Linked DNA regions of Homo sapiens: regions 2 and 3 are each reported to be linked to region 1. Evidence: microRNA targets listed by miRTarBase, many of them from high-throughput screens and not tested one by one. Region 1 holds a microRNA gene; each other region holds the end of a gene's coding sequence.
Evidence for each region. Region 1 holds the annotated microRNA hsa-miR-6862-3p (CCUCACCCAGCUCUCUGGCCCUCU, at 2,601-2,624, opposite strand). A microRNA usually pairs through its seed, bases 2 to 8, with sites in the 3' UTR of a target mRNA and lowers its output. Matches are read on the target gene's strand: a 7mer-m8 pairs with bases 2 to 8, a 7mer-A1 pairs with bases 2 to 7 and ends in A, and an 8mer does both.

Region 1 (4,193 bases):
CAGTTTCCCTCCCTGCTCCACCTGCGGAAGTCTAGAGAGTAACAGATTTGCTGTCAAGTCCTGACAGAAGTGGAGGACAGGTGGACACACCCATTCCCCTCTGCCATGACTGCCACGTGCTCACCTTTGAGGAGCCCTCAGGCGGGGTCAGCTGTCGCTGATGGGCCTTGTAATCAAACTTGTAGTAGGTGTGCAGGATGCGCAGCAGGTAGATGCGGCAGACCTCCTCGGTAGTGCCCTTCTCCTCCAGGTAGCGCTGCACACGCTCGATGATGGCACACACCTGGGCCTCATCCTTCAAGTGCTCCACGTACTCTGGCAGGGAGAGCACCCACCCTTGTCTCAGCTGGGCAGCCAGGCTTTCCCATCTGTCCCCACTCATTCCAATCAACCCGTCCCTCTTCTGCACCCGTCAGAAAAGTCTAGTCAGTGTGCCCCAGAAAGGCCATCTCCCACTCCCAGGACCCAGAACCTTCCAGTCCCACAGCTTAGGAAAAAAATCCCAACTGCCAACCTCTGCCAATAAGGGTCTGCCAGGCCTGGCCCTTGCCTGGTCTCCCACGATTCTCCCTCTGGCTTCCTGTGCTGGAGTCCCACTGGCCTTTTTACTCCTGGAACATCAAGCTCGCTCTCTGCTCCTCCTGTCAGGCGCTGTCTTCAGCTGATTCTTCCCCTAACTCCTCCTCATTGGATCTCACCTCAGGTGGTCCCTACTTAAGGGTGCTTTCTCCAGCTGTTAGCTACAGCAGCCACCCCTCCAGCCACTTCTTACCACAGGGCCCTAGTTTAACTCTGAACTTTATATCATCTAGAATTATTATTATTATTTTTTGAGATGGAGTTTCACTCTTTCGCCCAGGCTGGAGTGCAGTGGTGTGATCTCAGCTCATTGCAACCTCTGGCCCGCTGGGCTCAAGGGATTCTCCTGCCTCAGCCTCCCACATAGCTGGGATTTACAGGCACCTGCCACCATGCCTGGCTAATTTTTGTATTTGAGTAGAGCCAGGGTTTTGCCACGTTGGCCAGGCTGGTCTCAAACTCCTGACCTCAGGTGATTCACACACCTCGGCCTCCCAAAGTGCTAGGATTACAGGCGTGAGCCACTGCACCTGGCCCAGAATTATCTTAACATCATACTATTTTTTTTTTTTTTTGAGATGGAGTCTTGCTCTGTCGCCCAGGCTGGAGTGCAGGGGTGTGATCTCGGCTCACTGCAAGTTCCGCCTCCTGGGTTCATGCCATTCTCCTGCCTCAGCCTCCCAAGTAGCTGGGACTATAGGCGCCCAGCACCACGCCTAATTTTTTTTGTGTGTGTGTGTGTATTTTTAGTAGAGATGGGGTTTCACCGTGTTAGCCAGGATGGTCTCAATCTCCTGACCTCGGGATCCGCCTGCTTCGGCCTCCCAAAGAGCTGGAATTACAGACGTGAGCCACCACGCCCGGCCATATCTTACTACTATTATTTTTCAATCTGCCTTTCTCCATCCAGCACAAAAGGTAAGCTTTTGGCTGCCTTGTTAATCACTACACCCTTGACTTGATGGGCACATTCACACTTTTACTGAGTAAACTATGCTGCACTTTCACACCCCAATGCCTCTCATCCAAGCTAAACAAGAGAAGTGAATAGATGCCTTACCCCAAAGGTTCTCAAAGTATAGCCCTGAGACCAGCAACCTGGGAGCAGGCTAGAGGTGCAGGTTCTCAAGCCCCACTCAGACCTATGGAATCAGAAACGATGGGACTGGGAGCCAGCATCTCATCAGGCCCTTCCGTGTGAACGCTAGGTAAGTTGAAAGGCTGGCTTTTCAAGCACTCTGACTTAGTATAATCCTCACAAAGCTCTAAACCTAGTAATATTCCCCACAATTTTCCTCTCAGCAAAGCCCACGCTTGCTCAGGCTCACCTTGGGAGTGAGGGTCAGTATTTTGCATTATTTTGGTAAATTCTTCATCCATTCGTTCCACCAGAGTTAGGATGCAGCCACGGACACGCAGTGGCTGAAAAGGAAGGCGAAGGAGGAGTCAACAAATTAGCCCAGATCTCAGTCTCAAACCTCAACCCTCGGGTCCCACTGAGCCTTCCCAAAGCATAAAATACACACCTCCAGTTATCCTGCCAACTCCTCCCTTTACCTGGTCAGCGTTGTGCAGGTTCTCACTCTCTTCCAGAATATTCTCTCCAACAAAAATGTTGGGATTTGCAAACAGGATATCCATCAGCTCATTGATGCAGTCCAGGCACTTCCCCCACATCTCTGGCTGCCAAGATTTCAGGCCACATCAGAGTCAGAGGTGTGAAGGTAGAGTAAGCGGATGCCTCCCCCTTCAGCAGGAATCATGGGGCCTTCCACCACCAAGACTGCCTCCATAGCCCCTGAGTCTTAAGATGCTAGGTACCTTCTTCCCCCAACCCACCAGCGATGCCCTGAGATGAGCCTCTTCACTGCTCTCACCTTCATGTAGGTTGCCAGGTTGGGGTTGTAGTCATAGAGAGAGGCGATGATATTGAACTTGATCTTGACAATGACGCCCTCTCCCAGGTTGTTTTCCGCTGCAATCTGAACCAGCAGTTGCAGCAGCTCAATCTGGGCAGCACTAGAGGGCCAGAGAGCTGGGTGAGGCTTTGGAGACAAATCACAAAGTCTCTCCCAGCATGCCCGCTTCGGATAACGCGCCCTCCTCATCACCCATATCCCTGCTTCTCCTTTATAAATTCCAAACAGAAGCAACAATAATCCCAACCATCCTGGAATGCTGTGAAATGCTTCACACCTACCACCATCCTCTGTTACCTAATAACTAAAGAAGGTAAACACTCTTTTACTTTTTTAATCTTAAAAAAAAAAAAAGCCAGGTGTGGTAGCTCATGCCTGTAATCCCAGCACTTTGGGAGGCTGAGGCAGGCGGATCACTTGAAGTCAGGAGTTCGAGACATGGTGAAACCCCATCTCTACTAAAAGTACAAAATCAGCCAGGGATGGTGGCGGGTTCCTGTAATCCCAGCTACTCAGGAGGCTGAGGCAGGAGAATCGGTTGAACCCAGAAGGCAAAAAGGTTGCAGTGAGCCGAGATCGCGCCAGTGCACTCCAGCCTGGGCAACAACGAGACTCCATCTCAAACAAAAAAAAAAAAAAAAAAAAAAAGAGGAGAACATTATCTCATTGTATAGATGGGAAAACAGATCCAAAACGTTAAGTGATTGGTTTTAAGTCACAAGAAGAGTAAACAGCAGATAATGGACGGGGATGCCCCAAGCATACAATTCCCTCTACTACAGCCACACACAGACCCTCCCAACAATCCCTTCCCCCAACCTCCACCCTCTGCCACCCTGCAATCCCACTGCCCAGGCCCACGAATCTTACCGATCAGTTCCCTTCTTGCCTCGTGCCTGTAGGATCTCATTCAGTTTCTTGATAACAACAGCATGGGTGATCTCAGTTCCCTTGGCAAACATTTTTGGCTTCTCCTGTATCAGCACATATCCCGTCATGTACATGCCAGCGGGAAACTGTCCTTGCCTTTTCCCCACAAGGGGACCTTTATGTCCTCCCAAACTGTTCCCCAATTCATTTTACCTCTGAAACCCTCACCTTAACCAACGGCACTCCGCCCCGGACCCTTTCCCACTCCCCGCCTTCATTGTCCTCCTCCTCCTCATCCAGGCGCTTGGATTTCCTGTCGTGCTTCTTCTTAGCTTTGTCCTCCCGTTTCTTCTCGGCTGCCTTCTTGTCCTCATCTGTGGTGGGTGCCCTGCCGACAGACATGGGAGAAGATGACAGATCAGCCCCTCCCCACCTCTAAGGCTTCTTCCTCCCATCAACTTCCTCTTTTCCTCCAGCAGCTCCTGGGTCCAAGTTATGCTCTACAACAATGACCTAGAGGGCACAGTGAACCATAACCATAGCCATCTCTAACAAGACAGAGTACTAACCAGGCCACTGTAGACATATTAATAGAAACAACCTGTCAGCTAAGCATGGTAGATCACTTGACGTCAGGAATCCAAGACCAGCCTGGGCAACATGGTGGAACCCCATCTCTACTAAAAGTACAAAAATTAGCCAGGCATGGTGGTGCACGCCTGTAGTCCCAGCTACTTAGGAGGCTGAGGCACGAGAATCACTTGAACTTGGGAGGCAGAGAAGGCTGCAGTGAGCCACAATCATGCCACTGCACTTAAGCCGGGG
Region 2 (4,193 bases), not on the chromosome of region 1:
AAAAGAAAAAAAAACGAAGAAAGAAACAAACATAATAAAAATACACATCAGCATCAAAGGTCAACACAAGGTCAAAGGTGAGAGTTCAAGCATCAGAGAAGCTGAAGAGACAGGGATTTGGACGATGTACTTGACGCCACATCGACATGCTTTAGGCACAACGATGAACAAACGGCAGGAATCTAGAAAAAAAAACAAACCAGAAAGAGGGAGACCCACTGAGTTACACAGAGCAATACATCCAAACAAAGAGAGAGAGAACAGGAACACTCACTGTGTGTACAGCCCTGAAATGAGGTGGGCGGGCAGGGGTTGGGTAATGACAGGGAACTTTTGCACATGCTAACAATGGACACAGGGAAAAGTCAAAAAGGACATGGAGGACACCAAGAACACATCTAATTGCCAGAGACAGAAGGGAACCTAAGGCTTGGATTTTCCATGAAGCACCCAACTCCTAAGAGAAGGTCTCCAGGGGAGCAGAGCCTCAGCCTCTCTCCCCACTCCCTGGTCACAACCCAAGGGGAAGCAGAAGATGCTGGCTGGGGTGGGGAAAATTTTTCAGGGAAGAGGACCAGAATTTCTGCTCAATCTTATGGGGATGGCCCTTTGTTCCCAGAAATCCAAGCTCTTAGCTTCCATCCAGGCCCTGGCCACTCAAGGGGAACCCAGGAGACAGTGGTCTGGCTGCATTCAAGGCAAATCAATTTCATGATGTAACCCAAGTAAGAAACAAAACTACAGCAGAAAACACATTGTAAGTGAAACCTTCACACAACAGAAAAGGATTGCTTAAGACTTGACAGCGAGTCTCCACTCTGAGCTGAGCCCTTTCACACGTGAGACTTGTAGGGGAGCAGCTTCTTCACAAAACCATCTTTGGCCTGGGGAAAGAACTGTGCTCAAGGGCAGTGCTACTGCTGTGCTAACTCACTGGGCAGGGGGAGGAGAGAACAGAGAAGTGCATGGTCTCACCAGCTGGCTGCTCAAGCAGCCCAGGACCCTGCTGGGGCGAGCATTCCTTTTAGAAAAGAAAACCCATCAGCAGGTATGAAGCCCTCAGGGTCTGGTATCAAAGGTGGGTGGATTGCACCTTGGCCTCTTATGTCATTAGGAAAGGGGTTTCATAAGGTCCCAGAGCCCAGGACAAATCCATGGACAAATAATGGTGAGATGGGGGAAGGCGGAGAGAAGAAGGGGATGTGGGAAGGGAGTGGCGTTCTGGCTAAGGAGGAAGACAGAACAGAAGGCTAGGGAGCACAGCACCGGCAGCACCCTATGGAGCACAGCTCTCTCCTCTGCCAATTCACAGCATTAACACCTTCCCCTTGGGCAGGTTAGCTGGGCTGCAAACGGGCCACAGAAAGTCAGTAGTTTCAATCATACACAGCACCCTGTGTGTATAACAATCACATTCTGGATTCTACAAAATCCTGGCCTTTTCCAGAGATATAATTTAGGTAATAAATATTCTCCACCCCGGAGCTGTATAAAACTTCTATAAAAATAGAAACGACATTCTTGGTTCCAGCCGGTTGGGATTCAGAACAGCGCCTCCCCAACCTAGCATTTTTTTCTTTTTTTTTTTTGTTTTCTTTTTTCTTTTTTATTTTTATTTTTTGCATTTATTTAAAAAATCCCATCATGACCCTGGAAGCCTTTAGAACAGTTTTATCCTTTGAAACACAGGACACATTTCTCCCAGTGCGCAGAATTTCAAGTTTACGTGGTTCAGCTTAAGAAGTGTATGTTTCACGTTCCTTAGAGGACAACAGACCCAAGTTATCACTATGAGAAAGGAACAGCTGTCCCAGCTTCAATGGGATAATCCAACACCACCAGCTACCTGTACAACAGTAAGATGGTCAATCCCTGTCTGTTACCCACAGGGACAGCATGACAAGGAGAGAGCCCCCATCTGACTTAATAGCAAACCAACCCCTTTATTCTTATCTCTGCTGCTAGGGGTCAAGACTGGTATTTGTTGAGGTTTCAGATTCCAGAGACCCAGGGATCCCATCCCTGGCTGTGGCTACAGTCACATCTTAACAGGGCCACCTCTGCCCAGGTGTACATTCCCAACAGCATGTCCTTCCTGGTTCTCTACCCCCACAGCACTTCTTAGAGCAGAGGCAGAGCCCAGAAGCTGTGTGGGTCACAGGCAAGAGCTGAAGTAAGACCTGCAAGAGGCGGCAGGGAGCTAACTGTAGCACGAGGACAAAAATGAACACGGTAATACTGAGGTAAATGAACACTCAATTCATGTGGAGGCTGTAAACGTCCTGATGTCACCTCTGCCTCAAGAGCAGAAAATGTGACTGGAGTGGTTACAGGAGGGGCCTGCCAGACCCCTGTGGGAATACTACATCTGGGACACCTCAATCAAGGAGGCAAGGGAGAATTTCTGGCCACTGGCAAATGAAGCATACTGGCTTGCAGGGACCTTCTGATTCAAGTACACCAAGAAATAAGCTCCTCCTCCCCCAACTAGATGGTATTGATCACTCTGCCCACAAATGGTACCCCCTTCAGCAAGAACTGCAAGCCCTTCTTGGATTTGCCTTCATGAGAAAATGGTGGCTTGGGATGGAGGTGACATTCCTTGCTGTGGTGAACTGCAAAGAAGGAAACCAGGCAATGTATTCCATAGAGGCCTTTAAAGAGACCCGTTGGAAATGGGCCATGGTCTAATTTGGTGTTGAAATAAACTAACCTCTTTGGCTGTTTCTCCCAAACTGCCACCAGCCAGGCAAGGCCAATCCAATACTGACTGCTGGCTGGGGGAGCTCGTAATGGGTGATGCCGCCCTGCTTTTTGCATATGTCAGGCTAACAGGTGCTTTATTTCCAGAGAATTGTTAATGCCCTTTTTTGAAAAGAGCAGCAGAAATTCCGGACAAGAATCTGAAAAATAGGTGTCAAAAACTATTTCCCAGAAGGTAGCTGTACAGGAGTTTGAGTCTCCAGCTGCCAGGGCATTAGGTGTCTAGTCACTCCACTCTTCCCCAAAGCCGCTCTGCTCCCCACAGCTCCCAGGTGTCAGTTCTCATTCTACCCACCCTCACACTAAGAGAGGTTCTGGGGGTCACTTTTTTGTTCCACTCAGTCCTCTCTCTTGGGGTGGTTTGGGGCAAATCCTGATCATCGTCTGTGTTAAATGTTTCCCTGTCCCCCTTCCCCAGGGTGGTTTGGTGTTGGTCCTTCTCAACACACACTGGTTACAAACACAGCAAACTTTAAATAAAGGAGAAACAAAAACAAAAACAAAAAAAACCTCAGGATATGGCACCTAAACTCCAAAGTAAAACACTGGAAACCAAAGCACAAACTTGTCCTCTGTACGAAGCGAAACTCCCACAGAAGGCAGTAGCCGAGTCTTCAGGGCAAGCTGTGCCTGCGAGAGTGGCAGGGATCAGGGTCCAGGGCTGTCAACACACAGCCTCAGGGCTTCGAATCATTAAGGGTGCTCCTCCCCCACTTACCAGAAGACCCTCTCACTCCAGTCTCAGAGGGGAGCACGCTCAGTAGGGCTTGCTGTCATTCTTCGAACGTTTGAGCTGCACTTTAAGCCGCTTCATGCCAATCTGAAAGCCGTTCATGGACTGGATGGCAGCTTGGGCCGAAACAGGATTGTCGTAACTTACAAAACCTGTGTGTCCAAGCAGAAACCTAGGTGAGGGACATAATGAGGCAAGGAGATTCTCAGTCCTCCTTATGCAAGATACCTTATGTGCTTCATCTCAAATCCCAATTTTATTCAGCAGGGACAAGAAATCTGGACATTATGTCATACGAAATAAATTAGGTTCTTAATAGTACCACTTAACAGCTACATGGTAATTTAAAGGTTTTTTTCTTTTTCTTGAGACAGGGTCTTGCTCTGTCACCCAGGGTGGAGTACAGTGGTGTGACCATGGTTCACTGCAACCTTGGCCTCCTGGGCTCAGGTGATCCTCTCACCTCAGCCTCAAGTAGCTGGGAACACAGGTACACGCCACCACGTCTGACTAATTTTTTGTAGCCATGAGGTCTCACTCTGTTGCTCAGGCTGGTCTCGAACTCCTAGGCTCAAGCGATCCTCCTGCCTTGGCCTCCCCAAGTACTGGGACTTACAGGCACAAACCTGGACTGTTTAAAGGTTTTTTTGCAAACCATTTTCCATATATTATTTTTCTCTCTGGAGCAACAGTGTGG
Region 3 (4,193 bases), not on the chromosome of region 1:
AATTTAAACTTCTTTGTATTATCATCCCTTACAAATTAATCTTTATTTGAAGCAGCCAAAATGTGTTGAATCCTTAAGTACTCTGTGCTAGGTATTTTGTCAAATGTTTATATGGATTGTCTCTTTAATCTTCTGGAGTAGATATTTTCTCATAGTTGAGAAAACTGAGACTTAGAGCAGTTAATTTTCTCACAGTCACAAGCTAGTACATGACTAAGCCTGGATTCAGGTTCCAAGTCTTCATTCCAAAGACTATATTTACCACTACACAATTAGCCTAAAAGAAAGGCAGTAGGTTCTGTCTCTTTATTAACTTTTGATTAGGTTGTTAAGCATATAATTAAGGGGAGAATTCCTATATGCAGGTCCAAGGAGTTGCTTGTTTTCTTTTAGCCTGAGGGTGGCAGTGGTAAATTCTCATGCCTGAAGATTATGCATCCTTCATATAGACCAGTGGGTATTTTTTCATAACCTGTAATATTAACTTCTTATTGCTAGTAATGATCCTGCATTCTGGGTTGTTTTATACCAGGCTTTCTTCGAGAGTCACCCAGCTCCTTCAGCTGAGCGTACCATCCAGCAGTGTTGTGAAAATATTCTGCTGAATGCTGCCTGGCTAAAGCGAGATGCTGAGAGCATCCACCAGTACCTCCTTCAGCGGAAGGCCTCACCACCCACAGTGTGAATCCTGAGGTGCCGCCATTGGCGGTTCTGCTGCTTCGCTGCAGGGATAAGGTGGAGCTACCGAACAGCTGATTCATATGCCAAGAATTTGGAGTCTTCTTTCAAACCAGTGGGGGTTGGACAATGAATGTAGTTAACTGGTTCCTGCTCACACTCCAGAATTAAATTCTATTGAAAAAGGAAAATCAGCAATTCAGCAAAAAATAAATAAAAAATAAAAATGTAAATATGATAGTAATAAAATAGAGCATAACGAAACTGTGAAACTTTCTGAAGCCTTGTCAGTGGTTAAAAGTATTTAACACTCTACTGTTAATGACAGATGTTCTGTTTTTATAACCTACCAAAAGGAAACTAGAGGCTTCTTGGTGAAGAGCATTTTTGTGAAGTGGGTTCTGCAAGGAGCCTATAAAGCCAAGGGTGGTGTCCATTTCTGGGAATGGTTAAACACAAAAGGCTGATAGCTGGTATCACATAGTTGGAGTCAGTGCATAATTCCAAGTGGCTTTTTTTTTTTTTGGCACGGGGACTGATCAGGAAGATATATTCCTGCATAACTCAATCTGAACCAAGGATTGTAGTTTAGTTTTCCTCCTTGCCTTCCCTTCTGTGTGACCGACCCCTTGGCCAAAAAAAAACAAAAAGCAAAAAACAAAAACCTACCCTGTTCTGGTTTTTTTCCTCCCTTTAGTTCCACCCCCAACCCCCATTCCCTGGTGTCCTTCTTAGAGATGAAGAAATAATAAGGAAACATCTTTCATAGCCACATTAAATAAGAGAAACTGATATACATTATTTTTTTCTTTTTAAAGATGACTTATAAGAACCCTGAAATTTATATAGGTGAGACAATAGAAATAAAAAGATCTTCAGCCAGGCCTTTCTGAAGGAGTTATTCTGCTAAAAATGGTCTTAGTTGTCTGAAAAGCCAGCTCTTGAACCTCTTCACAACAGTATCAACACTGGCTTCTCCCGGTTCATTTTATGCGTGCGAGAAGTCAGTGGTAACTGCTGCAGGGCTTAATACATTAGTGGTAACTGGTTTAAAAAACAAAGACTGTAAGCCTGTGTGTGCCACTGTTTGCTTCAACAGTATATCCTAATAAGCCTCACCTATTTAATCCAATGAGTTTTAAATCTAAATCTCATTCCCTTCTTCTTTCCCTACCTTTTTTTTCTTTTTTTCTTAAAAAAATATTTTGTGTTATTAACAGAAATTCATATTTGGTGTGGCTTAACGGTATTTCAGAAGGTCATCAGATTGTGAGACTGCTTCCTTGAAACATTTTTGTGCTATTGTTTTAAAAAAATAATTAAAAAACAGTTGGCGTTAATAAAAATGTCAATGTGAAACTGATGTCCTGATTCACTTTATTCTCTTTCTTTGATAAGAAACTAAAAACTTTCCTATCATTCAGTAGGCTTATGCAAAGTTATACTATCATAGGATTTTTCAAATTCAAAAAAAATCCAGTTCCTTAATTCCTAATTTATAGATCTTAACAGAAAAATCCTGAGATTCATTCTAAATCAGTTCTACATTCTCAAAACTCTCTCAGAGACTCTTATAGTCAGCATTCAGGAATGAACTTGAGACTTCCTCAGTCCCTAGTTTTGAGGCACCCTAGTTCAGGCACCATGCTCAGGGCTGCCCTTAGGCTCTCAAATGTTCTTAAGGCACCAGTGAAGCAGGGGCACCAAAAAGACTGAGAAAAATGCAGGTTTAATTGAAGAACTCAGAATTTTGCAATCAGAAATTCTGGAAACAGGTTATTTTACTTTCAGCATACATGTGATTTTTGTCTGTAATAATAGTTAAGTAGTTTGAATTACGTTCAGGGAGAGGTTATACTAGATGTCTTCCATTTGCCTTTCAGAACCCCTCTTCATCCCACTCTGGACCCCAGCGGGTGCTGACCCACATGGACTGCAGCATGAATGGCTCCCTTGCCCTCTGACTTCAGCTTCTGTTTATCCAATTATTAATATCCAAAGAAGATGAGAAGATATAAGGAAGAGATGGTCAGAGTACTCTGGCTTTCTCATTGCCAGGTCACATGGGTTGTCTGTGTCCCTTTAGCAAAGACCACAGCTCTTACCAAGCAGCCCCCTCTAGCTTCTGGCTCCTTCTCTTTGCTCCTTCACATCTAGGAATAGAAAGAAAGGAGAACTCGAGAGCTGGGTGCGGTGGCTCACGCTTGTAATCCCAGCACTTTGGGAGGCCGAGACGGGTAGATCACCTGAGGTCAAGAATTCAAGACCAGCCTGGCCAACATGGTGAAACCCCGTCTCTACTAAAAATACAAAAATTAGCTGGGCATGGTGGCGCATGCCTGTAATCCCAGCTACTCGGGAGGCTGAGGCAGGAGAATTGCCAGAACCCAGGAGGCAGAGGTTGCAGTGAGCCAAGACCGTGCCACTGCACTCCAGCCTGGGCAACAAGAGTGAAACTCCGTCTCCAAAAAAAAAAAAGAAGACTCAAGCTGGGTGCGGTCACTCACACCTGTAATCCCAGCACTTTGGGAGGCTGAGGTAGACAGATCACCTGAGGTCAGGAGTTTCAGACCAGCCTGGTCAACATGATGAAACCCCTGTTTCTACTAAAAATACAAAAATTGGCCAAGCATGGTGATGCATGTCTGTAATACCAGCTACTTGAGAGGCTGAGGCACAAGAATTGCTTGAGCCTGGGAGGCAGAGGCTGCAGTGAGCTGAGATCGTGCCACTGCACTCCAGCCTGGGCAACAGAGCGAGACTGTCTCAAAAAAAAAAAAAAAAAAAAAAAAAAGGACTTAGTTACCAGCCCTGGATTACGCCATTATTCTTCATTGATTTTCCTGCACTCTGTCCATGTCTCTGTAAATAGTCCTTTATTAAACCTTCCTCAGTTTGTGTTCTTTCCTACCAATACCTTGAGTGATTTGGGCACAATAGCCCTGCTGCTTTGGGTCTCTAAAGGTTTTAATTCAGCCTTTTCTGTGTCAGATGTTTTGTTTTTCAAATAGCTCCCTATCATAAGTCATACACCCATTTTACAGATGAGAATGCAGACTCAGAAAAGTAAGGCAAATTAATACAGCAAAATAACTATCAACCAGTGATCAAGCCAGGTTTGCTAGTCTCCAAAGGCTGTGGTCTTTCAGGGAACTGCCATGTCTCCACAATTAAAAGATCATAGTTAGACTGGGCCAGGCAATAGCATTAAAGCTTAATTACTTTTTCCTAATATATTTTGGTTACAAATTTTAGTGGAAATCAGAAGGTTTGGAAGAAACAAGTATGTTAATGCCTCCTATGGAGAGTTTTACATTATTTTTCATTAATGAGATTCAGTAAAGCTTTTTGGAACAGTGGGCAGTGGTGGGGTGAATTCTCAACTTGCAATTTCTAAGGATAGGTTTTAGGGAGCAAGGAATAAATCTGTTGAGTACAACTTGGGGAGGATTAAGAGGAGTTCTATAGCTCTAAATAGATTCTTCAAATTCTATAACCCAAAAAGTTTCCAGAAT

Region 2: miRTarBase lists CELF1 as a target of hsa-miR-6862-3p. Seed matches in the 3' UTR shown: 7mer-A1 at 970-976.
Region 3: the mRNA of NPEPPS is a reported target of hsa-miR-6862-3p. Seed matches in the 3' UTR shown: 7mer-A1 at 1,527-1,533.

What each region holds. Positions count from the first base shown.
Region 1 is chr16:28,722,727-28,726,919 of GRCh38, reverse strand. It overlaps MIR6862-2 (microRNA 6862-2), which reads right to left and starts at 2,668; the gene lies at 2,599-2,668. EIF3C (eukaryotic translation initiation factor 3 subunit C) reads right to left here. Exons shown (of 21, transcript NM_003752.5): 9 at 3,597-3,756; 10 at 3,369-3,472; 11 at 2,457-2,598; 12 at 2,137-2,262; 13 at 1,908-2,001; 14 at 125-315.
Region 2 is chr11:47,468,710-47,472,902 of GRCh38, forward strand. CELF1 (CUGBP Elav-like family member 1) reads right to left here. Exons shown (of 15, transcript NM_001376376.1): 15 at 1-3,648. The coding sequence ends at 3,521. Among named protein-coding and RNA genes, the nearest start is that of RAPSN, 22 kb to the left of the region's middle.
Region 3 is chr17:47,621,236-47,625,428 of GRCh38, forward strand. It overlaps NPEPPS (aminopeptidase puromycin sensitive), which reads left to right. Exons shown (of 23, transcript NM_006310.4): 23 at 533-2,041. The coding sequence ends at 685. KPNB1-DT (KPNB1 divergent transcript) reads right to left here. Exons shown (of 4, transcript NR_171700.1): 4 at 292-852. Among named protein-coding and RNA genes, the nearest start is that of KPNB1-DT, 26 kb to the right of the region's middle.